Regions from separate parts of the Homo sapiens genome. Here region 1 is linked to region 2. Evidence: fine-mapped expression QTL. A gene starts in region 2. The other region holds a variant in brackets. All regions are shown on one strand. Distances are from middle to middle. Region 1 overlaps SEMA4B (semaphorin 4B). Region 2 holds the start of TTLL13 (tubulin tyrosine ligase like 13).

Region 1 (11,706 bases), 40 kb before region 2:
AGATGCAGGGAGCCGATTTGTGGCCTCGCCCAGTGGCCAGTAGGGAGAGGAGGATGAGGGGACAGCCACTGGGGGCTCCACAGTCAGCTGGAAATCTCTGAAAGGAACACTTCAAAGAAGTGTGTGGAATTTGGGTTCTCTTGCGTTGGAACTACCATGCAGAGCTCCAGGACCAAAGCCTCGGTCAGGAGCAGGAGTGGTGCTGAGTAGAAACAATGGCGCCCAGTGCTTCCCAGCCTGGCCACGTGGGGAGAAACAAAACACGCCTCCTCTCATGGCCCTCCAAAGTCTTTTTGGGCCACCTTATTTGGACACTTAATGGGAGTTATTATTATTGTTATTTTGAGATGGAGTTTCGCTCTGTCTCCCAGGCTGGAGTACAGTGATGCCATCTCCGCTCACTGCAGCCTCCACCTCCCAAGTTCAAGTGATTCTCCTGCCTCAGCCTCTCGAGCAGCTGAGACTACAGGTGCCCGCCACCATGCTTAGCTAATTTTTGTATTTTTGTAGAGATGGGATTTCACCATGTTGTCCAGGCTGGTCTCGAACTTCTGACCTTAGGTGATCTGCCCATCTTGGCCTCCCAAAGTGCTGGGATTACAGGCATGAGCCACCACATCCGGCCTTAAAGGGAGTTATTAATTCCCTCCTGCCCCAGAAGTGCCGGGCGGGAAAGCTCTGGACGCAGTATTTCTGAAGCAGATTGGACAGAAATCTGCAGGCCTGCAAACTGCAGTCAACAAAACGCCATTGAGCAGAGAGAATGGAGCATTTGGCACAAATCAGCTGCTTGCCCTCTGGCCCTGGAGGAGGCAGCCAGGGTCAAGGCTGCCCTGGGAAGCCCTGATGCTGGTCGCTTGTTGAGCCCTCAGCCCGGTTACTGGCTTCCCTCCTTGACATGGTCTCAACTGGACATGAGCCTTTGTCCCCAGCTCTGTCCTATGGGCCAGCATCTCTTTGGCTCTGCAGAGGTGAGTGGAAGGCGCTCTAACTGCGGATGCTCAGAGCCTGGCTTTGTAAAGTAGCTTGCCACCCTTACTAACTGCACAACCTTGGGCAAGCTCCTGGCCTTCTCCAGGCCCATTTTCACATTAGCAAGAGAGGAATAATGGCCATCTTCACAGTGTTCTGAGAGGATTACATGAAATAATGTATGTAAAGTGTTTGGCATGGTGCCTGGCACATGCTGCATCCGTAGTAAAAAGGTAGCTTCTGCTCTGGTGTGCTAGAAACCCCCTGCCAGCCTTGCTTGGTGAGGTTATTTGCATCCATTTTTGTGCACACTGGTGGTATGCAGGCCCTCTGCTAGGTGCCAAGCCTTGTCAGGCTTAGTGCCTGCCCTGGTAGAAAAGACAAAGCAAGGCCCCCAGGAGCTGATTGGAGGTCATTACCAGGGGTCCTGCTTAATTATAGCCCAGTTATTAAGTGCTCCTGATTCAGCCTTTTCAAAGTCCTCCTTTGCCTGAAGAACCTCCTCTGCATGGGGCTGGACCATGCCTCTCCCTGCCTGCCCTTCACTGGTTCTGCTCTGCCTTCAGCACAACCCACATCCAGCTGGTGTTGAAATACCTCTGTGCCAACCCAGGAGAGCGCTAAACTTGCACAACTTTTGGGGCATATCTGGATATACCAGCATGTTCATCCTCTAGGCAAGAGACAGAGGGTGGCACGGGGCCTGGAGAAAAGGCTAGACTCGGGTCATGTCATCAATCACTCCTTCCTTTATCTTCTTAGAGCCTGTTGCCTCTCACTCCACCCCCATGGGTGCTCAGGCTGGCGCAGGACTCAGGGGGCCTCTGATGTGGCCCTCCCTGGGGATCGGGGCAACAGGAACAACACAACGCGAGACTCCTGTGGTCGAGGCCTGCCTTCCCTCAGATTAGCTTTTTGGGAAGTCTGCTCCCTTGGACTGCATTCTCCATGCTTTTCCCCAGCTGGTTTCCCTGCCCCTCCTCTTCACATTCTGACCTCCCTGTGCTGGATGTGGGACAGCTATCCTGTCTGTAAGATAAGATAATTAAAAGCCTGGTGGCTCTTTCCCTGCTGCCACCAAGTCATGCAGAGACGGAGGCTCAGGCTCAGTTGCGTTCAAGATTCGGCTTCACCCGTAACCCACTGCCATGGCCGAGGAAGGCATTGCTGCTGGAGGGGTAATGGACATTAATGCTGCTTTACAAGAGCTGTTGAAGACAGCCCTCATCCACGATGGCCTAGCACATGGAATTCGCAAAGCTACCAAAGCCTTAGACAAGCGCCAAGCCCATCTTTGTGTGCTTGCATCCAACGGTGATGAGACTGTGTATGTCAAGTTGGTGGAAGCCCTTTGTGCTGAGCACCAAATCAACCTAATTAAGGTTGATGACAAAAGAAACTGGGGGAATGGGTAGGTCTCTGTCAAATTGACAGAGAGGGGAAACCCCGTAAAGTGGTTGGTTGCAGTTGTATAGTAGTTAAGGACTATGGCAAGGAGTCTCAGGCCAAGCATGTCATCAGAGAGAACTTCTAATGCAAGAAATGAAGAAAATATCTTTGGCTCACAAAAAAAACAAAAAAAGCCTGGTGCCCACAGCGGCTCTATACTTATTAGCTCACCATCGACCCTCTTCTGGGCACTGAATACTGGAACACTAAGGGGTGGCTCCTGCCCTGTGGCAGAGATGGTCACAGAAGAGTAGAGTGGCTACAGAGTGATACACAGAGGTGGAGTGTTCTGTCCAGCTGCTAGAGTTCTGCCTCCCAGGCCTGTGATCTGACTTGTTGTGCATGGAAGCTCTATTCTGCACTCCTGGATCCATCTGGAAGCCCATCCTGTAGTCTTAACAGGCTTCCGAGAGGTGGGGGGCCTGTGGCGAGGGGGTTTCAGTGGGGATGGTAGGTAGGAGACAGAAGCCATCATTTTACCATACTCCTAAAGAGGAGCCAAATTAGCCAACTCGTGTCCTCTTTTTTGGCATCTTTTGGCCCATCCTCTAGGAAGGGGGCCAACTGGAAGAGCAAATAAAAGCGGCCATTGCGGTGCACTCCCTGTGTGCCAGGCACTGCTGTTGGATGTGGAAGTGCATTGCTTTATCTCATGCAGATGAGGAAACCAAAGCTCAGTGAAGCTAACTCATTATCAAGGTCATGCAGCTATAGAAGAGTTTGGGACCAAGCCTTGGGCCACAGTTCTCGATTCAGCAACCACATTCTTTCCATTAGAACAGCTGCCTCCTGCTTCACCTGTGAATCGTACAAAAGCAGCAAGATGACCCGGCTCAGCCCTTGAATAATTGCAGGTTATATTTTTCCATCTGTTAAAGAAATCTGTTGAGGTCAGTCTCTGGACGGGGCAGGGGATCCAGCCGAGGCCCCTGGTTGCATGGCCATAGTTGGGAAGAGGGCAGAGCTGGCAGACATGTGGCACACAGGAGACTGAGGCACACATCTCAGACAGAAGTTTGCAAACTGAAGGGTAGTGGGCCACAGCCAGCCTGGAGATACATTTTGTTTGACTTCCAAGTTCTTTAGAAAAATTTTAATTAGGCCAGGTGCGGTGGCTCACGCCTATAATCCCAGCACTTTGGGAGGCCGAGGCGGGTGGACCACTTGAGGTCAGGAGTTTCGAGACCAGCCTGGCCAACGTGGTGAAACCCCATCTCTACTAAAAATAGAAAAATTAACTGGGCATGGTGGCAGGCACCTGTAATCCCAGCTACTCAGGAGGCTAAGGGAGGAGAATCACTTGAACCTGGGAGACAGGGGTTGCAGTGAGCCGAGATCATGCCATTGCACTCCAGCCTGGAAGACAAGAGCAAAACTCCATCTCAAAAAAAAAAAAAGAAAGAAAAATTTTAATTAGTTGCTGATATTTAAAACTTAGGAAATTTTACATAAAAATCTAGGTTTCCAGCTTTTCTGAAGGTCTGGTAAGGTTGGACCCCCATTCCGTGTAGCAGCACGTGTCTGGGGCCTAAGTCTTGCGTGTGAAAAAGGGCTAGAGTAAAAGTAGAAGGCAAGAAGCAAGGGGAGGAGTAGGGAGCATGGGGAGAACCCATCTTGATTATTGATGGTCACTGACCCCTAATCTTTGCAGAGCTTTGCACTGCCACGTACTGTGTTTATTTAGTCTTCTCAGCAATCCTGCAAGGCAGCCCTCTCAGGACTGAGAATTTGTTCGGGGTTGCACAGTGGGTCAGTGATCAAGTGAGGATTCACACACATGTCTTGTGCCCCTTCCAGTCCGTGAAGCTTGTTTCTTGTCTCCCTACCATACTTTCAGCTGTCATACTTCCACCTGTCATACTTAATTCTTTTTTTCTTTTTCTTTTTTTTTTTTGAGATGGGGTCTCACTCTGTCACCCAGGCTGCAGTGGTGAGATCTTGGCTCACTGCAACCTCCACCTCCCAGGCTTAAGCGATCTTCCCACCTCAGCCTCCTGAGTAGCTGGGACCTCAGGCATATGCCACCATGCCCAGCTAATTTTTGCATTCTTGGTAGAGACAGGGTTTCATCATGTTGCCCAGGCTGGTCTCGAGCTCCTGTCAGCTGTTATACTTCTATGTGTTCAGTGCTTTTGGGAGGGGTCAGAGTGGTAGCAGTGCTTCTCAGACACACTTTTGTGAGTGTGATGCTTCAGGACCTCCACGTTGCCCCATTTTTATCTGGGGCCCCTCTCTGGGCTGGAGCACTCTCACTGGGACTGTGTCATTCATTTGTTTAGTCAACAAACATTTATGGAACAACTGCTGGGAGCTCACCTGACCAGTTGATACAAATATGAATAAGACATGGTCTTGATCTTGAAGATGCTGTCAGCTTGGTGGAAAAGAAGAGCACAAAGACCGGGCGCGGTGGCTCACACCTGTAATCCCAACACTTTGGGAGGCCGAGGCAGGCGGATCAGCTGAGGTCAGGAGTTCAAGACCAGCCTGGCCAACATGGTGAAACCCCATCT[C/T]TACTAAAAAAATATATATATATATACAAAAATTAGCCGGGCATGATGGCGGGTGCCTGTAATTCCGGCTACTCAGGAGGCTGAGGCTGAGGCGGAAGAATCGCTTGAACCCAAGGTTCAAGGTTGCAGTGAGCCAAGATCATGCCATTGCACTCTAGCCTGGGCGACAGAGCAAGACTGTCTTAAAAAAAAAAGAGAGAAGAGCGCAGAAAGACCCTCCTCATCATCATCAAACATCAAACATTGCCATCATCCGACAGTGTCACCAGTGCACTACAAGACGTGTGAACAGGAAATGATGGGCATACGGAGAAGGGCCCTTGCCCAGCCGGGGATCCAGGAAGGCCTCCTGGAGGAGGTGGAACTGAGCCAAGTCTCAAAGGATGAGTGTGAGTTAGTCAAAAGGAAAGCCTTCTGGGTGGAGGGGACTTCCTGAACAGACCGGAGATGAGAGAATTGGGCCCTTGAGTTGCAGTTCCATGTCACTTGGTCGAACCAAGAGGTGGGTGGGTGGCAAGCACTAGCAAGTTAGGAGCTTGGACGACGGGGTGCTATTGAAGTTTTTAGGCAGAACAGTGACGGCTCCCAGAGAGCCCTCTGGCTGCAGCATAGCAGCTGGCCTGGAGATGGGAGGCTGGTTGGGAGGCTGCTGTGATGGTGGCCTAGGTGAGAGAGGATGGTGCCAGGCTCAGGACTGCGGTAGTGGGGATGGTGAGGGGAATGGATTTGGAAAATATTGAGAGAAAATTGGCAGGATTTGATTATAGACTGGACTTCTGAGGAAGGAGGATGGTGAGACACCCAGGTGAGTGGTGCCACACACAAACACAAAATGCCAAGCCAGGGAGTGGGACTGGAAGGGGGCGGTGAGGTGGTGGGAGGCACCCACAGAGGCCCTTCTGCACTGTGGGGTCTGGTGTGTTGGAGGAAGATCTGCACTTGGATGAGGAGATTTGGGGATCGCCAGCATCCGCGTCATTGAAGTGATGAGCATGGACGTGTGACCCAGGGGCTTGAACGGAGTTAAGAAGAGCAGGGCCAGGAGCAGACAGACCTAGAGAGCAAGAACATTCAGGAGCAAAGCCTGAGGCAGGAGGGTGGTCATCAACACAGATGCTGCAGCCAGGTGGCCCAGGGTCGGGCGGCATCCCCACCACTCCTCCCGGGGATGACTTGCACCTGAAACAGAGGTAATAAAACACAGCAGCCTTGTGAGGATGACATGACTTAATCCGTTTAAAGGGCTGAGAAAGTGCTCACATACTTTAGCTCTTTGAGGGCTAGAGGCCCAGAAGGCATGTGAGGGAGACACGGAGTGATGCTTGAGACTGGGGGCACAGGTACCTAGAGGACGGGGTGGCGTGGCCCGTGTCTGGGGTCTGTCAGCGAGGCGATCCCTGGGCTCTTGGCAGGGCTGGCACTGCTGAACGTGGGGCTGGCTGAGGCCCAACTTCTGTGGAGGAGTGAGTGGAAGGTGAGAGGCAGAGATGGCATGGGGTGGCTGTTCTCTTTGGGAGCTTGTCTAAGGCAGGTGGAGGGAGGCACAAAAGTTTCTAGAATGGACATTGGAACAAAAACTGCTTTCTGACAGGTAGAGTTGGTGACATAGGATTTGGTCTCTGAGGAGATGGGGTGGGAAGTTGAGGTTGTTTATGCCTGATGACCCCGATTTCCTTGGAAGAAGTGGAGACATCTATAAAAGCAGGAAGGCAGACCCAGGGCAGAGGCCCTAGAAGCCGGGTTGTTAGAGGGGAGCCAGCCCCTGAGCAGAGGGACTGAGCGTGTCCCTGTGTAGACCTGTGAGCAGGCAGGCGGCAGGCAGGCTCCTAAGGTGACGGCAGTGGTCTGTGCACCCATGGCACAGGCCCTAGGTCGGGACTGGGACTGCCTGGGGGTTCTGGCAGAGGCTCTTCGTCTGCCCACTTGGGGCTGTAGCAATGGCTTTCCGGGGCATGCCCCAGGAGCACAGATGCTGTGAGGCCAGGTTCCCTTGCCCTCGTTGCCACTTTCTTGGTGACCTCAGTCCATGGGAGGACCCTTGGCACACAATACCCCCAACCTCTGCCCAGAGTCCCTGGTCAGGGACTCGACTCTGGCACTGGGCTGGTGTCAGCAGAATGTGGCCCCCTCCTCCATGCTCCATGAGGAAGAAGTGGCTGCCCTGCCCAACACGGGCCGTGTGGAGGAAGGAAGTGCACCCAGGTTGGCAGTGTGTCCCAGTTTCCTGCTGACTGTGGCCCCGTCAGCACTCCTGCCCTGGAGGTGGGGCTGCTGCTGGGGTAAGTGGGTCCAAGGTTCTGGTGACTTATCGTGACATCCCTGGGGACGAAGGGCTACAACAGCCTTTCAGGAGGCTCTCTGGGGACTTGTCCCGCCCAGACCCCTCTCTGAGAGTGGGGGAGGCCACTGGCTGCCTCCTTGCATTGGAGGCCCCTTCCCCACCGACTCCACAGGGAAGCTGGTGTTTTCTGGCCTGATCCTGCTGGGGCCTGTAGAGGGTGGGATGTTAGGGCCAGGTCAGCGTCTTGCTGCCGTGCCCGGAGCCACAGTAGAGAGAAAGGTGGGGTGGGGTTCTGAGTCACAGCGCTGCTGCAGCTAGCTGGCTGGCCTGGGGTGGGGACTAACCAGGGTGGGGATGGTGCTGAGCCCTATTCCTGTCTCACCCCAGAGAGCTCCAGGCTTCCGGCTGAGTCACAGGGAAGGAGGACCCTTACATGGGGCTGAGGGCTGAGTATTCCCACATCACTTCCTACTCAGAACCCCACTTCCTACTCAGAACCCCACTTCCTGGGGTGGGGAGTGGGGACCCTGCAGGTGACTCTTATGTGCCCATTCCATGTGCCGTCTCCCTCCAGGGAGGGACAGGGCAGCCCCAGACCAGCCCCGGTCTGCCTTTTTGAAGGATGATCTGCCTAGTGGGATGCACTGGCCTTGGTGAAGCCCCTGGCTGAAGCCTGTCGGGGTGGAGGGAGAGGGTTCACCCTGAATGGGAAAACCGGCCGCAGCCTCGGCGTGCCCTGCTTTCTTCATACTGGACTAACCCACTGGATAGATGGATTTAGAGGATGTCCGAGCAGCACAGGCAGCCCAGGAGAGCGAGCGAGACACTCTTTGACACAAGGGAGAGCATAAAAGCTTAAGACTGACCCCAAGGTGCGCCAGCCCCTCGCAGGAAGTAAAGTGCAGAAACACCTCCACCCCTGCACAAAGAGCACCTAGGAGTGAGTGCGCAAGCGTGGACAAGCCCTGCGGTACCGTGTACACACACACACACACACACACACCACAGGCAAGCTCAGGCAGGGTCCTTCACAGACGTCTGCAGTCACTCTGGAGGTGACCCAAGCACCTGGGCCCTTAGACAGTAACACCACTCACACCGAGCACAGACCAGCTCGCGCCCACAACACGAGCCTGTGACACGCAAGTCTCTGTTTCTGAGCTGATGCCGTCTGGCTTTGGCCATGAGACCCTCGTGTGACCAGGTGCGTGCCTAAGTTAGAATCGCCCAGGCTAAGTTCGTGAACCCCCTGGATGAGGGAGGCCCGACTCCCGCAAGGAGCCCTGCCCTTCTGCCAGCTCTCACCGGGCCGGATTTTCCTGCGGGGCTTTTGGATTTTGTTTTTGAGTCACTCATTGAGTGTTGGTCGCGTGCCAGACACCATGCCACACTGCAAACCATGTGCAACGTTGTTTTAGCAAAGCTGTCTCAGTAAATGTGGGTTATTATGTATATTATTATTTACATACGTAATCTCATTTTTTCTAATAACAACCCCATGAGGCAAAGTGTTATTATTTTCCCCATTTTACAGATAAGGAAAACGGGGCTTTGAGAGGTTAAGTGGCGTGTCCTGGTGGCACACAGCCAGTAAGTGGTAGAGGATGGCTTTGAACCCAGGTCTCTAACTCTACTCTGCACACCATGGCTTTCAGTCTGACTCTCAGGGCAGAGAGATGAGGCAAGTGTGGAAGGGAAGCCCCAGAAGGGGAAAGCCTGGTTAAGGGGCCCTTCACCCCCCTCTCCAAGGCACATTCCCCTTTCTGTCCCTTTGTCGTTTCATTCACTCTACTCCCAGCATGGCTGGAGGGCTTGTGGCTGGCTCGTTTGGAGGCCTGGGCTGAACCAGGGACTGGCTGGTCTATAGGTTTCCCCTCCAGCCGGCTGCACTCTGTAGTGCCCGAGGCAGGTTTCCACCCCTTCTCCCAGGCGTAAGTGGGATTGAGTTGCCACCTGGGACTGAGGCTTATCTCTGACTCTTGGCATTTCTTTGTCTGGACAGATTCCAAGGGCGGTCTGCTGCCCAGACTTACAGGGCCTGCCCAGGTGGAAACGCTCTTTTGCAGGTAGATAAGCACGGGCAACCAGCTTATCTGAACCAGCCCTTGCTTCCAGAGAACTATGGAAAAATCCAAAAGATAAGAAGGGACCGCAGTGTCTGTCTTGGTCTCACTCCTCTTGAGACTCCTGTGATCTTTATATGTCTCATTCCTCCCGTGACATGTATGAGAAACTGCAGCTCATTGAGACGATGTCTCTGCTGCCTGACAGAAGGGCCTACTTGAGGGCCGGGCTCGGTGGCTCAGCCACCTGACCCCCGTCATCCTGTTAACTAGTGTCACCCCCACCCGAGGGCTTCCTTCCCCATTTGCTGCCAGGTGTAAAGCTGAGCTTCGGCTGGGCGCGGTGGCTCAGGCCTATAATCCCAGCACTTTGGGAGGCTGAGGCAGGCGGATCACCTGAAGTCAGGAGTACGAGAGACCAGCCTGGCCAACATGATGAAACCCTGACTTTACTGAAAATACAAAAATTAGCTGGGCATGGTGGCAGGCACCTGTAATCCCAGCTTCTTGGGAGGCTGAGGCAGGAGAATCGCTTGAACCTGAGAGGTGTAGGTTGCACCATTGCACTCCAGCCTGGACAACAAGAGAGAAACTCCGTCTCAAAAAAAAAAAAAAAAAAGGGCTGAGCTGCTGGGCGTGGTGGCTCACGCCTGTAATCCCAGCACTTTGGGAGGCCGAGGCGGGTGGATCACATGAGGTCAGGAGTTCAAGACCAGCCTGACCAACATGGAGAAACCCCGTCTCTACTAAAAATACTTTGCCGGGCGTGGTGACATATGCCTGTAATCCCAGCTACTCAGGAGGCTGAGGCAGGAGAATCGCTTGAACCTGGGAGGCGGAGGTTGCGGTGAGCCAAGATTGTGCTATTGCACTCCAGCCTGGGCAACAACAGCAAAACACCATCTCAAAAAAAAAAAAAAAAAAAAAGGCTGAGCTTCCCCCAAATGGCTGATATGTGTTCCTCCTTATGGACATTGAGGATGGAGTAGCTTCATTTCCCATTTTTCTTTGGCCACCAGGAGGCCCAGCACTAAAGGCTCAGCCCTTCTCTACCAGCTGTGCGAAGACTCATTGACCTACTCGTGAATTTTTACTTCCTTGCTGATGGAGATGTTTTTCTTCAGATTTGGGTTTTCTCTGCTCCTGATTTTAATGTTTATATTTCACTACTTTCTTTTCTTCATGTCTCCCCACCCTTTATGGAACCAGGCTGGGGGTATGTAAAAACACTCCACAGGTAAACACACATGAAGTCATCTTCACAGCTGCTTGATTGGGCGTGTTGCACTTTTTGCTTCCTCAGCTTCGTGAGACTGTTTGTGTGGTCATAACCCACTGGTCCGCTACAACGTGCCTGAGGGTGGTCAGGGTGCTGCTCTTTGCTTGTTTTTGTGTTCTCATCAGCTGCTTAGAATTTTAAAAATAATTTCTCTCCAAACCCTTTAGTTACCCAAAGCATAAACAGTACCCTGGTGGGTAAGTGTGTGTGTGTTTCTTTTTTTTTTTCTTTGATTTATATATTTCACATTATATAAGGATAACCTGCTTATTAGAGAATCTAAAAATGATAACAAGTAAAAAAGAAAAGAAAGCTACCTGTAATTCTACCAGGGAGCCCATGTTTTAGTGTTTTGTGATACATCCTTCTGGATTTTTTTCCTATGCTTATATTTTTCCCACAAAAAATAGAATTTGACCATACATACTAAATATAACCTGAATTTTCACTTCATGGTAGATAATTCGTGTCTTTCCTTGTTGTTATTCTGCAAAAACAAAAGCTACTTAAAATGTGTACCAAGGTCTGGGCGCAGTGGCCCACACCTGTAATCCCAGCACTTCGGGAGGCTGAGGCAGGCGGATTGCTTGAAGCCAGGAGTTCGAGACCAGCCTGGCCAACATGGCAAAACCCTGTCTCTACTAAAAATACAAAAGTTAGCCGGGCATGGTGGCACATGCCTGTAATCCCAGCTACTCGGGAGGCTGAGGCAGAAGAATTGCTCGAACCTGGAAGGCGGAGGTTGCGGTGAGCCGAGATCATGCCAGTGCACTCCTGCCTGGGCAACAGAGTGAGACTCAGTCTCAAAAAATAAATAAAATTTGTATCAAGGATACATGCACGTATATATATATTTTTAAGTATAGAAGGGCTTATTATAAAAAGCAAAAACGTCTGTCCTCCCTCACCCCAGGCCAATTTAAAAGGGACTTTTAATCATTTAGGGTTCTTAGGGTTCTTGTTCTACCATTATTTCCTCCATTTTTTTTTTTTCTTTTTGAGATGGAGTTTCACTCTTGTTGCCCAGGCTGGAGTGCAATGGTGTGATCTCAGCTCACCGCAACCTCTGCATCCCAGGTTCAAGCGATTCTCCTGCCTCAGCCTCCCGAGTAGCTGGGATTACAGGCATGTGCTACTACGCCTGGCTAA
Region 2 (11,706 bases):
TAAATACATAAAGTCTTGGGTCCAGCTCTCAACAGAGATTATCACCGCCACCACTCCTTCATCAAACATCCTGAAGGAATGAGAGTCCCTGTTCACAGCGTAAGGGTGAAAGGGGGCTCACACAGGTGGGTTCTGGCTGCTGTCTGAGTGGGCTCACCCAGGAGGGGTTTTGATTTCTCTGCCTCCCAAACTGTGGGTCCTAGCCCTGGCTTAGGCCTTCAGGTCGTTGGCTCCCTATACCTAGGCCTGTATAAAGCCTTAGTTTCCAGTTTTCATTAGAGGTTTTACATCCCAAATGATGTTACAAAGTCTCCCTGTGATAAAGCAGAATATGTGTCCATAGCCCATTTTATAAGAAAAACAGTTTAGGCCAGGTGCGGTGGCTCACGCCTGTAATCCCAGCACTTTGGGAGGCTGAAGCAGGCAGATCACAAGGTCAGGAGTTCAAGACCAGCCTGGCCAACATGGTGAAACCCCGTCTCTACTAAAAACACAAAAATTAGCTGGGTGTGGGTGCACATCTATAGTCCCAGCTACTCAGGAGGCTGAGGCAGGAGAATCGCTTGGACCTGGGAGGCGGAGGTGGCAGTGAGCCGAGATCGCGCCACTGCACTCCAGCCTGGGCGGCAGAGAGAGACTTTGTCTCAAAAAAAAAAAAAAAGAAAAAAACAGTTTACCATTCTATCAGAAAATGTTGACCACCCTCATATTTTTGGTAAACTGCAGTAATTTTTCCTTAATACTTTTTGCAAGCTTTTGCATGCATAAGCTCCAGTATCACACTTAATTTTGCTTGCTTGCTCTCTGAAGGGAGTTCGGATGACCATTACAGCAAAGTGGATTTTGCGTTCAAAGTGATAAGCCAAATATCAGGATTTTCCCAGTTTCTCCGTAGGACTGATGTTTAGAGGAAAGCCTTCCCTGACTCAAATATGTTTCTCCATATAAAAAGGGGAAAGTAAAATGGGTTTTCTTTCTGGTGGTATTTCTCAGCTATTTATATGCTTTGTGAATCTTCAAGAAGAGCATTTGGACTGCAGCTTTTTCTACTGAGTAGGAAACACGTAGGGGCCCTTTGTACTCCGAGCCCTGGGCTTTGAGTATGGTAGGAAGTGCTGACCCAGCCCAGGACCTCCCCACGTTTTTGCTTAACTCTTCATGCAGAGGCCGGGCACGGTGGCACACTCCTGTAATCCCAGCACTTTGGGAGGCCGAGGCGGGCAGATCACCGGAGGTCAGGAATTCAAGACCAGCCTAACCAACATGGTGAAACCCAGTCTCTACAAAAATACAAAAATTAACCGGGCATGGTGGCATGCGCCTGTAATCCTAGCTACTCAGGAGGCTGAGGCGGAAGAATCGCTTCAACCCAGGAGGCAGAGGTTGCAGTGAGCCAAGATCGTGCCATTGCACTCCAGCCTGGGTGACAGAGCGAGACTCCATCTCAAAAAAAAAATACAAAACAAAAAACGATAATCAGAACTCTTCATGCAGGGCCTCATGTACTAAGAGGGTTTAGACTTGATCTAATGGGAAACCTTGAAGAATACTTAATGTGGGGTAACAGCTTTGCATTTGAGTAACAGCTTTGCATTTGAGGAAGAATACTTACGCTGTAATGGGGAGGATGGATGGAGTGAAGAATAGAATCAGGGAATCCAGTTAACAGACTGCTGAGGCCAGGTGTAGTGGCTCACGCCTGTAATCCCAGCAGCACTTTGGGAGACCCAAGCAGGTGGATCACCTGAGGTCAAGAGTTTGAGACCAGCCTGACCAACATGGTGAAACCCCATCTCTCTGAAAATACAAAAATTAGCCCCGTGTGGTGGCAGATGCCTGTAATCCCAGCTACTCAGGAGGCTGACGCAGGAGAATCACTTGAACCCGGGAGGCAGAGGGTGCAGTGACCCGAGATTGAGCCATTGCACTCCAGCCTGGGCAACAGAGTGAGACTCTGTCTCAAAAAAAAAAAAAAAAAAAAAAAAAAAAAAAAAAAAAAAAAAATTGCTGAATTGTGGCAATTCAGGCAAGAAATGGTGGTCGAGGTCCTAGAATAGTCCCTAGAACACTAAATTGTTTGTTGATGCAATGAGTGTCCTGGAAGTCAAGGGACTGCAGAACATTTCCAGGAGGACCATTTCTTTCTTTCCTTTTTTTTTTTTCTTTTGAGACGGAGTCTCACTGTGTCATCCAGGCTGGAGTGCAGTGGCACGATCTTGGCTCACTGCAACCTCTGCGTCCTGGATTCAAGCAATTCTCCTGCCTAGGCCTCCTGAATAGCTGAGACTACAGGCGTGCGCCACCATGCCCAGCTAATTTTTGTATTTTTAGTAGAGACAGGGTTTCACCATATTGGCCAGGCTGGTCTCGAACTCCTGACCTCGTGATCCACCTGCCTCAGCCTCCCAAAGTGCTGGGATTACAGCCATGAGTCACCACACTGGCCTTTTTTTTCTTTTCTTTTCTTTTTTCTTTTTTTTTTTTTTTTAAGAGAGAGAGTCTCGCTGTATTGCCCAGCCTGGTCTCAAACTCCTGGCCTCCAGTAATCCTCCTGCCTCAGCTTCCCAAGGTGCTGGGATTAGCGATGTAGGCTGCCACTCCTAGCCAGGAGGAGAGTTTCATATGAGAGTATCATATGCTGAGGAAAGATCAAGAAGTCTGTGAATCGGGCAGCCCATTTCTCCATCAGCCAGGAAGGACATTGGTGTTGAGGTTGACATACCTATCAAGGACAATAACTACCATGGCTTCCAGTGTTTTGATGAAACCTCAGATGCATGACCTCTGGTTTCACATTGCTGTATCCCTGTATAGAGGGTTGTAGCACTCTATACATTTGCTGTGGCTGAACCGGGAAAGAAGGCATATGCAGATTTCTAGAGAAATTATAATTCCATCAAAGATTTTTTTGTTTGCTTTTTTTTTTTGAGACAGAGACTCCCTCTGTCGCCCAGGCTGGAGTGCAGTGGCGCGATCTCCGTTCACTGCAAGCTCCGGATTCACACCATTCTCCTGCCTCAGCCTTCCAAGTAGCTGGGACTACAGGCGCCCGCCACCATGCCCAGCTAATTTTTATTTTTTTATTTTTTTATTTTTAGTAGAGAGGGGGTTTCACCGTGTTAGCCAGGATGGTCTTGATCTCGTGACCTGGTGATCCGCCCACCTTGGCCTCCCAAAGTGCTGGGATTACAGGCGTGAGCCATCACACCCGGCCAGATATTTGTTTTTTTAAATACGAGTTCTCACTCTGTCACCCAAGCTGAAGTGCAGTGGCATAATCATAGCTCACGGCATCCTCTTAACTCCCATGCTCAAGAGATCCTCACACCTCAGTCTTCCTAGTAGCTGGGACTACAGGGCCTGCCACCTAGCCTTGCTGATTCTATGAAAGATTTTGAGGAGATGAGGAAGGCTGGTATCTTTCAAAGTGCAAAGTGATTTTGGTATAAACAGTTTCTTTGGGTTGCATTACATAGAAGTTTATCACTAACCTATGTTCCTGAACTATGAAACATGAATATGTGGGCAAAGAAATAGCTTATCTTTATAGACAATTAACAACAACAAAAACAGTCTATGAATTAGAGAATGTCCATGCCTTTTTTAGGCCGAGTTCAGTGGTTCATGCCTGTAATCCCACCACTTTGGGAAGCCAAGGTGGGCAGGTCACTTGAGGTCAGGAGTTCAAGATCAGCCTGGCCAACACAGCAAAACCCCATCTCTACAAAAAATACAAAAATTAGCCAGGCATGGTGGTGCGCACCTGTAGCCCCAGCTACTTGGGACGCTGAAGTGGGAGGATTGCTTGAGCCTGGGAAGCTAAGTAAAGTTGCAGTGAGCTGCGATCACACCACTGCAATCCAGCCTGGGCTACAAAGCAAGACCCTGTCTCAAAAAAAAAAAAAAAAAAAAAAAAAAAAAAAAAAAAAAAAGTCCATGTCTTTTTAAAAGGATGGAAACATTTTAAGTGTTCTCTAGATTTAGCCACACAGTATAATTTTAGGGTGACAAGTTGAGCTGAGTTGGGTGGAGGTGGTGAGCAGAAATCAAAGTGGGTGGATGTCAGGAAGAGAAGGTGACAGTGAAGGAGCACTGTGATAAGGCGGTTTGGTTATTCCTTAATGGAGCTGTCTCAGTCCACCAGAGGCAAAGCCTTGAAAGGCACGTGGCCTTACCATGGCTGTCACTCTTGAATGCATAGGCTTTGCTAGCTAAACTTAGAGTTACTAAAGAATTGAGCCCGGCGTGGTGGCACGCTCCTGTAGTCACAGCTACTGGGGAGGCTGAGGCAGGAGGATTGCTTGAGCCCAGGAGGTCCAGGCTGCAGTGAGCTATGATGGTGCATTCCACTGCACTCCAGCCTGGGCGACACAGCAAGACCCCGTCTCAAAAAAAAAAAAAAAAAAAAAAAGGGAGAATTGAGGAGAGGCAAACAGCTATTTGTCCTCATTATATGCTTGGCCAAATTCCTTGGCCCGGGGTTTAGGGAAAGATGGGAGTGCGGCGAGAACTGGCTTCGAAGCGGGAGGGCTGCAAGTCCCATGATACACCGGAAGAATCTGGCGTCGAGGCCGGCCAGCTCCAAAGGGCAAACGCTGTCTCCCCCACCCAAGGTAGCCTCGGCCCGCGCCCAAGTGGGTGTGGCTGCGGGAAAGCCCCGCCCCCAGGACGCTTCTCCAATGGGAACTGCCCTCGTGTCCATGGCAACGGCGGCGGCCACGGGCTTGCTAGAGGAAGCGCTGCCCCGGCAGCCGCAGCCACGGCCACCGGGAGCTAGGAGTGAACCCCTGCGGGGGAGCAGCTTCCCCCTCGCGATCGTGGGGACAGCCAGTCCTGTGAAACGAGGAGGCGGTTCCGGACGCCCAGAAACGCCCAGGGAGACCTGGAGCCGGGGGAAGAGGGGACATGAGCGGCCAGCTGAGTCCATCCCCAGGCGGCTAGGGGCGGACCCAGCAGCCCCTCAGCTCTCCTCGTAACCACGGGTGGGCAGTCTCCACCGTCACAGCCCAAAGGGTCTTAGCCATCGGGTGCCTGTCCCTAGTGTGTACACGTGCAGAAAATGAGTCCTGGGAGAGGGAAAGGGCCAGCGTAGGGGGCTTTTGGTCTTCAGCTGTATTTTATTTTATTTATTTATTTATTTATTTATTTAGAGACAGACTCTTGCTCTGTCGCCCAGGCTGGAGTGCAGTGGTGTGATCTCGGCTCACTGCAACCTCCACCTCCCAGGTTCAAGTGATTCTCCTCCCTCAGCCTCCCGAGTAGCTGGGATTACAGGCAACGCACCAGCACACCCAGCTAATTTTTGTATTTTTAGGAGAGACGGGATTTCACCGTGCTAGCCAGGCTGCTCTCCAACTCCAGACCTCAAGTGATCTGCCCGCCTCAGCCTCCCAACGTGCTGGGCCGATTCAGCTGTATTTTAAAGCGAAGGTCCCCCCAGCACTCACAGCCATCCTCTTTCCCAATTAGGAACAAAAGAGCCATGGTCATGGCCCATACCATCTGTGTCCAACTCCTGAAGGCACCCCTGTGCGTTGTATGATCCAGTGTGAACCTGGATGATTGGGGCTTGTCATCAGGGAATCCACATCTCACTGGTGTCTTCCACCCCCATGCACCTCCACCTACCTGGACACATCCCATTCCTCAGTGAAACAGTTTTGTCCTGAAGGGGCAGCAACTTTCCCTTATAACAGCATGAAGGTCGTTCTGGTGGATTCCTTCAGGCCTTCTAGGGCCTGAGGGAGGTCTGAGGTCTGATATACACTTCATTCCCACCCCGCAACCCCTCAGAATCTGAGAGAATGGAGCCGAGTACCTGTAGGACCATGGAATCAGAGGAAGACTATGTTGAGGAAAAGGAATCTGAGAAGTGTGTTAAAGAGGGAGTTACCAACCCCTCTAACTCTTCACAGCAGGCTCTCTTAAAAGCTGACTATAAGGCATTAAAAAATGGGGTTCCCTCACCCATTATGGCCACAAAAATTCCGAAGAAAGTCATAGCCCCAGTTGACACAGGCGACTTAGAAGCTGGGAGGAGGAAGAGAAGGCGGAAACGCAGGTAACTATTCCCTAGATCCCCTCAACTGCCCAGCTCCAGGGAGTCACCCATTGGCCTCCCTTCAACATCTGGAGGAGCTGGGATCTCAGATCTTCCCTTTAGCCTACAAAAGAGGACAGGAAATGCTGGAGTGTCATTAACCCTTTGATACAACAGAAACAAAATTCAGAACCATTTAGGCTGGCTCATTTTGGAATCCCAGCCTGTTTATGTCATCCTGGTCTGTCTTTTTTTTTTTTTTTTTGAGACAGAGTCTCGCTCTGTCGCCCAGGCTGGAGTACAGTGGCGTGATCTCGGCTCACGGCAAGCTCCGCCTCCCGGGTTCAGGCCATTCTCCTGCCTCAGCCTCCCGAGTAGCTGGGACTACAGGCACCTGCCACCACGCATGGCAAATTTTTTTTTTTTTTTTTGTATTTTTAGTAGAGACAGGGTTTCATTGTGTTAGCCAGGATGGTCTCTATCTCCTGACCTTGTGATCCACCCGCCTCGGCCTCCCAAAGTGCTGGGATTACAGGCATGAGCCACCGCGCCCAGCCCATCCTGGTCTGTCTTTTAAGTGGCTTCTAGAGAAAAGGAATTGTGTTGTGAATTTGTTGGATGTCTTTTCATCTGAGTACCTGTCCTTCCCTCCCACTCTTCCTGATTTATGCTATTCCTCCATTCCAGATCACTGGCCATCAACCTGACCAACTGCAAGTATGAGAGTGGTAAGCACCCAGCCCGTCGCTCACACTGTGGTGCATAACATGGTGCCTACAGCTGCTGTTCTTCCTCTGGAATGGACCCCCGATCAGGCTTCCAGCCCCTGGGGCCTGGCGGGCTTGCCTCTAACCTGTACTGAGCTTCCTAGGTGTCCTCTGCCTCAGACACTGGAAGCTGAGACATTGCCATTCCAGGTAGTCTCAGTGTTAGGGAGGGTATCCTCACAGTAAACAAGAAAAAAAAAAAAAAAAGTCCAAGAGCCACTACTGCCCCACCCTTCCCAGATTTTATTTATTTATTTTTGAGACAGAGTCTCGCTTTGTCATCCAGGCTGGAGTGCAGTATTGCAATCATAGCTTAATGCAGCCTTGAACTCCCGAGCTCAAGCCGTCTTCCTATCTGAGCTTCCCAGTAGCTGGGACTACAGGCCTGCACCACTATGCTCACCTAATTCTTTTTTTTTTTTTGAGACCGAGTTTTGCTCTTGTTGCCCAGGCTGGAATGCAATGGCGTGATCTCGACTCACTGCAACCTCCACCACCCAGGTTCAAGCGATTCTCCTGCCTCAGCCTCCCAAATAGCTGGGATTACAGGCATGTGCCACCACATCTGGCTAATTTTGTACTTTTAGTAGACAGAGTTTCTCCATGTTGGCCAGGCTGGTCTTGAACTCCTGACCTCAGGTGATCCACCCACCTCAGCCTCCCAAAGTGCTGGGATTACAGGCATGAGCCACCATGCCCAGCCTGCCCAGCTAATTCTTAAATGTTTTGTAGAGACAGAGTCTTGCTATGTTGCCCAGGCTGGTCTTGAACTCCTGGGCTCAAGTGATCCTCCCACTTCAGCTTCTCAAAGGCCTAGGATAACAGGCAGGAGCCACCATGCCAGACCCTTCCCAGATTTTACCAGAGATGAGACAAGCTTAAAACAGTTTTTTCAAGGAAGATTTGAAGGGACTTCAACGATTAAGAAAAAAAACAATCTCCAGCTAGGTCCTTCCCCTAATATTCCCTCTGGCATCTTTATAAGGAACCACACAAGTATGGAGTGTGAAGTGCCAGTGTGACCCCACCTATAGGCAGCTCTCCAAGCCATAAACATCCCTGATTGAGAGATAAGACTGACAGGAGCAGCTGGGCACGGTGGCTCATGCCTGTAATCCCAACACTTTGGGAGGCCAAGGCAGGCGAATCTCCTGAGGTCAGGAGTTCGAGACCAGACTGGCCAACATGGTAAAACCCCGTCTCTACTAAAAATACAAAAATTACCCAGGTGTGGTGGTGGGCGCCTGTAGTCCCAGCTATTGGGGACGCTGAGGCACGAGAATCTCTTGAACCTGGGAGGCGGAGGTTGCAGTGAGCCAAGACCGTGCCACTGCACTCCAGCACAAGGGCGAAACTCCGTCTCTAAAAAACAAACAAACAAACAAACAAAAAACCAGGTTCTAGTTTTCTCTGCTAGGTATTTTGGAAGGGCCCTGACAGCCCCTAAGAACTTGAAATTGTCATGTGGTAACTAAAGTACAGGGCTGAGGCAAGAACTACCTCCCTCTTCAACCTGCCCTCGGGTCAGGTGTATACCTTACCTGACCCAGCTACACAGTTCCAGGGCTTGTTGCTGGTGTCCATGCTGGCACTACTGATCTCCCTGTCTCTGCAGTGCGTCGGGCAGCCCAAATGTGTGGCCTGAAGGAGGTGGGGGAGGATGAAGAGTGGACTCTGTACTGGACAGACTGCGCTGTCTCACTGGAACGAGTCATGGACATGAAGAGGTTTCAGGTACCCATCTCCTGACCTGAGAGCCGACAGGGGCTAGGGCCCCAGAATGACTATTCCCACCTCCTTGCCCAGGCACCCAAGACTGCTACTCTTTGTGGCTGTCCCCTTGTGCAGACAAGAAAGACCACCCCCAGGGTCTTCTTTTCCAATGGAAAGATCTCCTCTTGGAGATTGTGGGTTTCTGGAATTACCCAAAGGAAGTTTCTGGTGGGCACATCCTATCTCATGATTTGCACTTTGCTTGGTGGCATCTGTGTGTAGCTGGCCCTCTCCAGGGTGGGTGAGCACATCTTAGGGAGAATACTGGGAGGCAGCTTCAGAGCTAACAGCAGGGCCAGTTGAATGATCCAGCCTTCTAAGCAACTTAGTTTAGCATTCCACATCCATTAGGAGACTGCGGGGTCCTGCCTGGTGGCAAGAAATTCAGGAATGATCCACCGGGGTCCACAAGAATAGAACTGCCTTGTGACATTTTTATTATCCTCTAATTGGGCGTTTGTGGTGATCAGCAATAAAATAATTTAAAAGAGTCTGCAGGCTTATTCTTTGGGGAAGCCAGGCAGGAAGTTGAGGAAATTAAAACCTGTCCCACAACTAGTCTTGGGAGAGGTGCCCAAGAGAGAAAGCAAGTGCTAGAAGTTCTCAAGAAGCTCCAGAGGAGGTTGGGTGTGGTGGCTCACACCTGTAATCCCACCACTTTGGGAGGCCAAGGCAGGTGGATCAATTCAGGTCAGGAGTTCACTTGAACCCAGGAGGTGGAGGTTGCAGTGAGCAGAGATCATGCCACTACACTCCAGCCTGTGTGACAGAGTGAGACCCTGTTTTTTTTTTTTTTAAAAAAAAAAGGCTGGGCACAGTGGCTCACGCCTGTAATCCCAACTCTTTGGGAGGCCGAGGCGGGCGGATCATGAGGTCAGGAGTTCAAGACCAGCCTGACCAACAGGGTAAAACCCCATCTCTACTAAAAATACAAAAATTAACCAGGCATGGTGGCGCACACTTGTAATCCCAGCTATTTAGGAGGCTGAGGCAGGAGAATCACTTGAACCCAGGAGGCGGAGGTTGCAGTGAGCCAAGATTGTGTCATTGCACTCCAGCCTGGGTGACAGAGTGAGACTCCATCTAAAAAAAAAAAAAAAAAAAGGACGCTCCAAAGGAGGGGCATTTGTAAAATGAGGAATGCAGGCTGGGCACGGTGGACGGTGGCTCTCGTGCCTGAAATCCCTTTGGGAAGCCAAGGTGGGCAGATTGCTTGAACTCAGGACTTTGAGACCAGCCTGGGCAACAGGCAAAACCCCATCTCTACCAAAAATACAAAAATAAAAAAATATTAGCCAGGCGTAGTGGTGCATGCTTTAGTCCCAGCCACTTGGGAGGCTGAGGCAGGAGGATCTCTTGAGCCTGGGAGGCAGAGGCCGCAGTGAGCTGAGATCACACCACTGCACTCCAGCCTGGGCGACAGAGGGAGACCCTGTCTCAGGGAAGGGGGAAAAAAAAAGGATAAGGATAACAATAATCAGCAGCATTTACTGAGGGCTTACTGTACAACAGACTCCGTGTTAAGTGCTTTTATAGTATTACCCCATTAAATCCTCAAGAACAGCCCTGAGCAGCAGATATCCCTTGGTTAGGACATGGAGGGTCAGAAATACTAAGTTCATACAGTGAGTGCGGCCAGTGATGGGGAAACCCAGTGGAGAGCACTTAGCATACTCTTTGTGGCTGTCCCCCTGTGCAGACAGGAAAGACCATCCCCAGGGTATTCTTTTCCAACGGAAAGATTCTCCTCCTGGGTCTCTGGAATTACCTGAAGGAAGTGTCTGGTGGGTACATCCTATCTCATTATTTGTTCTTTACTTGGTGGCATCCCGGATGCTGCCACCCATCCAGCAGGACAGAGCAGCCAGGGGTTTCTGGCAGGCACCAGGGTGATGCCATGCCCTCAGTGGGTGCCATGGCATCACATTCCTTGGGGCTGGTTCTTAGTTTCCTTTTATCTTTTGTGTCTTTTGGGGAATGCTTTCGTCTCATTGTCTGCTTTGTGCTATCATGCATTAGTTATTGTTAGAGGACTAGGCCTGGTGGTCTGAGGGGTGTTAGAAGGTGGACTGTGGAAGCCACAGTCTTGGCTAGTTACATTCCTTCTCACTGCCCCTCATTTGCTGAGCTCAGTGTGGATGTGTGTGTTGGGTAGGAGTCACAGAGGGTTTTCTCACCTGCCTTAAGGAACCTTCCTATGTTTGCCCTTGGGGTCCTTGGTGCAGTGCTTACCTCCACTGTGACTTCTCCCTTAACCTTCCCAATCCTCCTCCACTGCTTCCTGGGATGCCCAGGTGCTAGGAAATGCCACTTACTCTGGGGGCTCATACTAACTGGCTGTGTTTCAGAAAATCAACCACTTCCCTGGCATGACAGAAATCTGCCGCAAAGATCTGCTGGCTCGGAACCTCAACCGCATGTACAAACTCTATCCCTCTGAGTACAACATCTTCCCCCGCACCTGGTGCCTCCCCGCAGAGTGAGTGGGTCTGGCTTCCCATGCTGAGATACCAGGGGGAGGAAAAGGGTCGCTCTCAGAGCTCTGGTCTTGTGACCTAGGAATGTCTCAGAGGGATGGAAGTGGAATGAGAAAGTTTCAGCTGGTCAAAGAAAAGAGGGTCTGAGACTGAGTGCTCCAGGAAGAGCATGGACTAGATAGCAGGAAGAGCTCCATGCGGCCCCGGGAAAGCCTTGATGCACAGAAACCTTTTGACCAGGCCCTCTCTGCACATAGCTATGGGGACTTCCAGTCCTACGGTCGTCAGCGAAAAGCCCGCACATATATCTGCAAGCCAGACAGTGGCTGTCAGGGACGTGGCATCTTCATTACCCGAAATCCCCGGGAGATCAAGCCAGGAGAGCATATGATCTGCCAGCAATACATCTCCAAGGTGAAGGATGCCTCAGGACCATCAGCCTTCCCTAGTCCCCAGCACTGGGCTGCCTCATCTCTCCCAAAAGCCAGGGAGGAAGCTGGTCTTAGGCTTCTACCCTTCCCACTAGCCCCGTTTTCCTGGAGGCAGTATCCAGCCATGGTTCAGAACCAGCCTGCCTGGGGTTGAATCTCAGTTTCCACTTCCCAGATATGTGACCTTGGGCAAGTTTCTTACCCTCTCTCTGTGCCTC

Evidence for each region.
Region 1: its variant is fine-mapped to the expression of TTLL13 in whole blood (TOPMed, PIP above 0.99).

The regions. Positions count from the first base shown.
Region 1 is chr15:90,204,450-90,216,155 of GRCh38, forward strand. The region is part of intron 1 of SEMA4B (semaphorin 4B); the gene reads left to right. It also overlaps the pseudogene RPS12P26. Among named protein-coding and RNA genes, the nearest start is that of SEMA4B, 9.0 kb to the left of the region's middle. RefSeq lists enhancers at 5,221-5,270, 6,806-8,005 and silencers at 8,069-8,243, 10,188-10,482. The variant C/T (reference allele first, on the strand shown) is at 4,935.
Region 2 is chr15:90,244,827-90,256,532 of GRCh38, forward strand. It overlaps TTLL13 (tubulin tyrosine ligase like 13), which reads left to right and starts at 4,730. Exons shown (of 15, transcript NM_001396017.1): 1 at 4,730-4,982; 2 at 5,794-6,061; 3 at 6,728-6,768; 4 at 8,423-8,541; 5 at 10,929-11,059; 6 at 11,315-11,471. The coding sequence starts at 5,805. It overlaps GDPGP1 (GDP-D-glucose phosphorylase 1), which reads left to right. Exons shown (of 4, transcript NM_001013657.3): 4 at 1-985. It also overlaps a transcript of CIB1 not described here.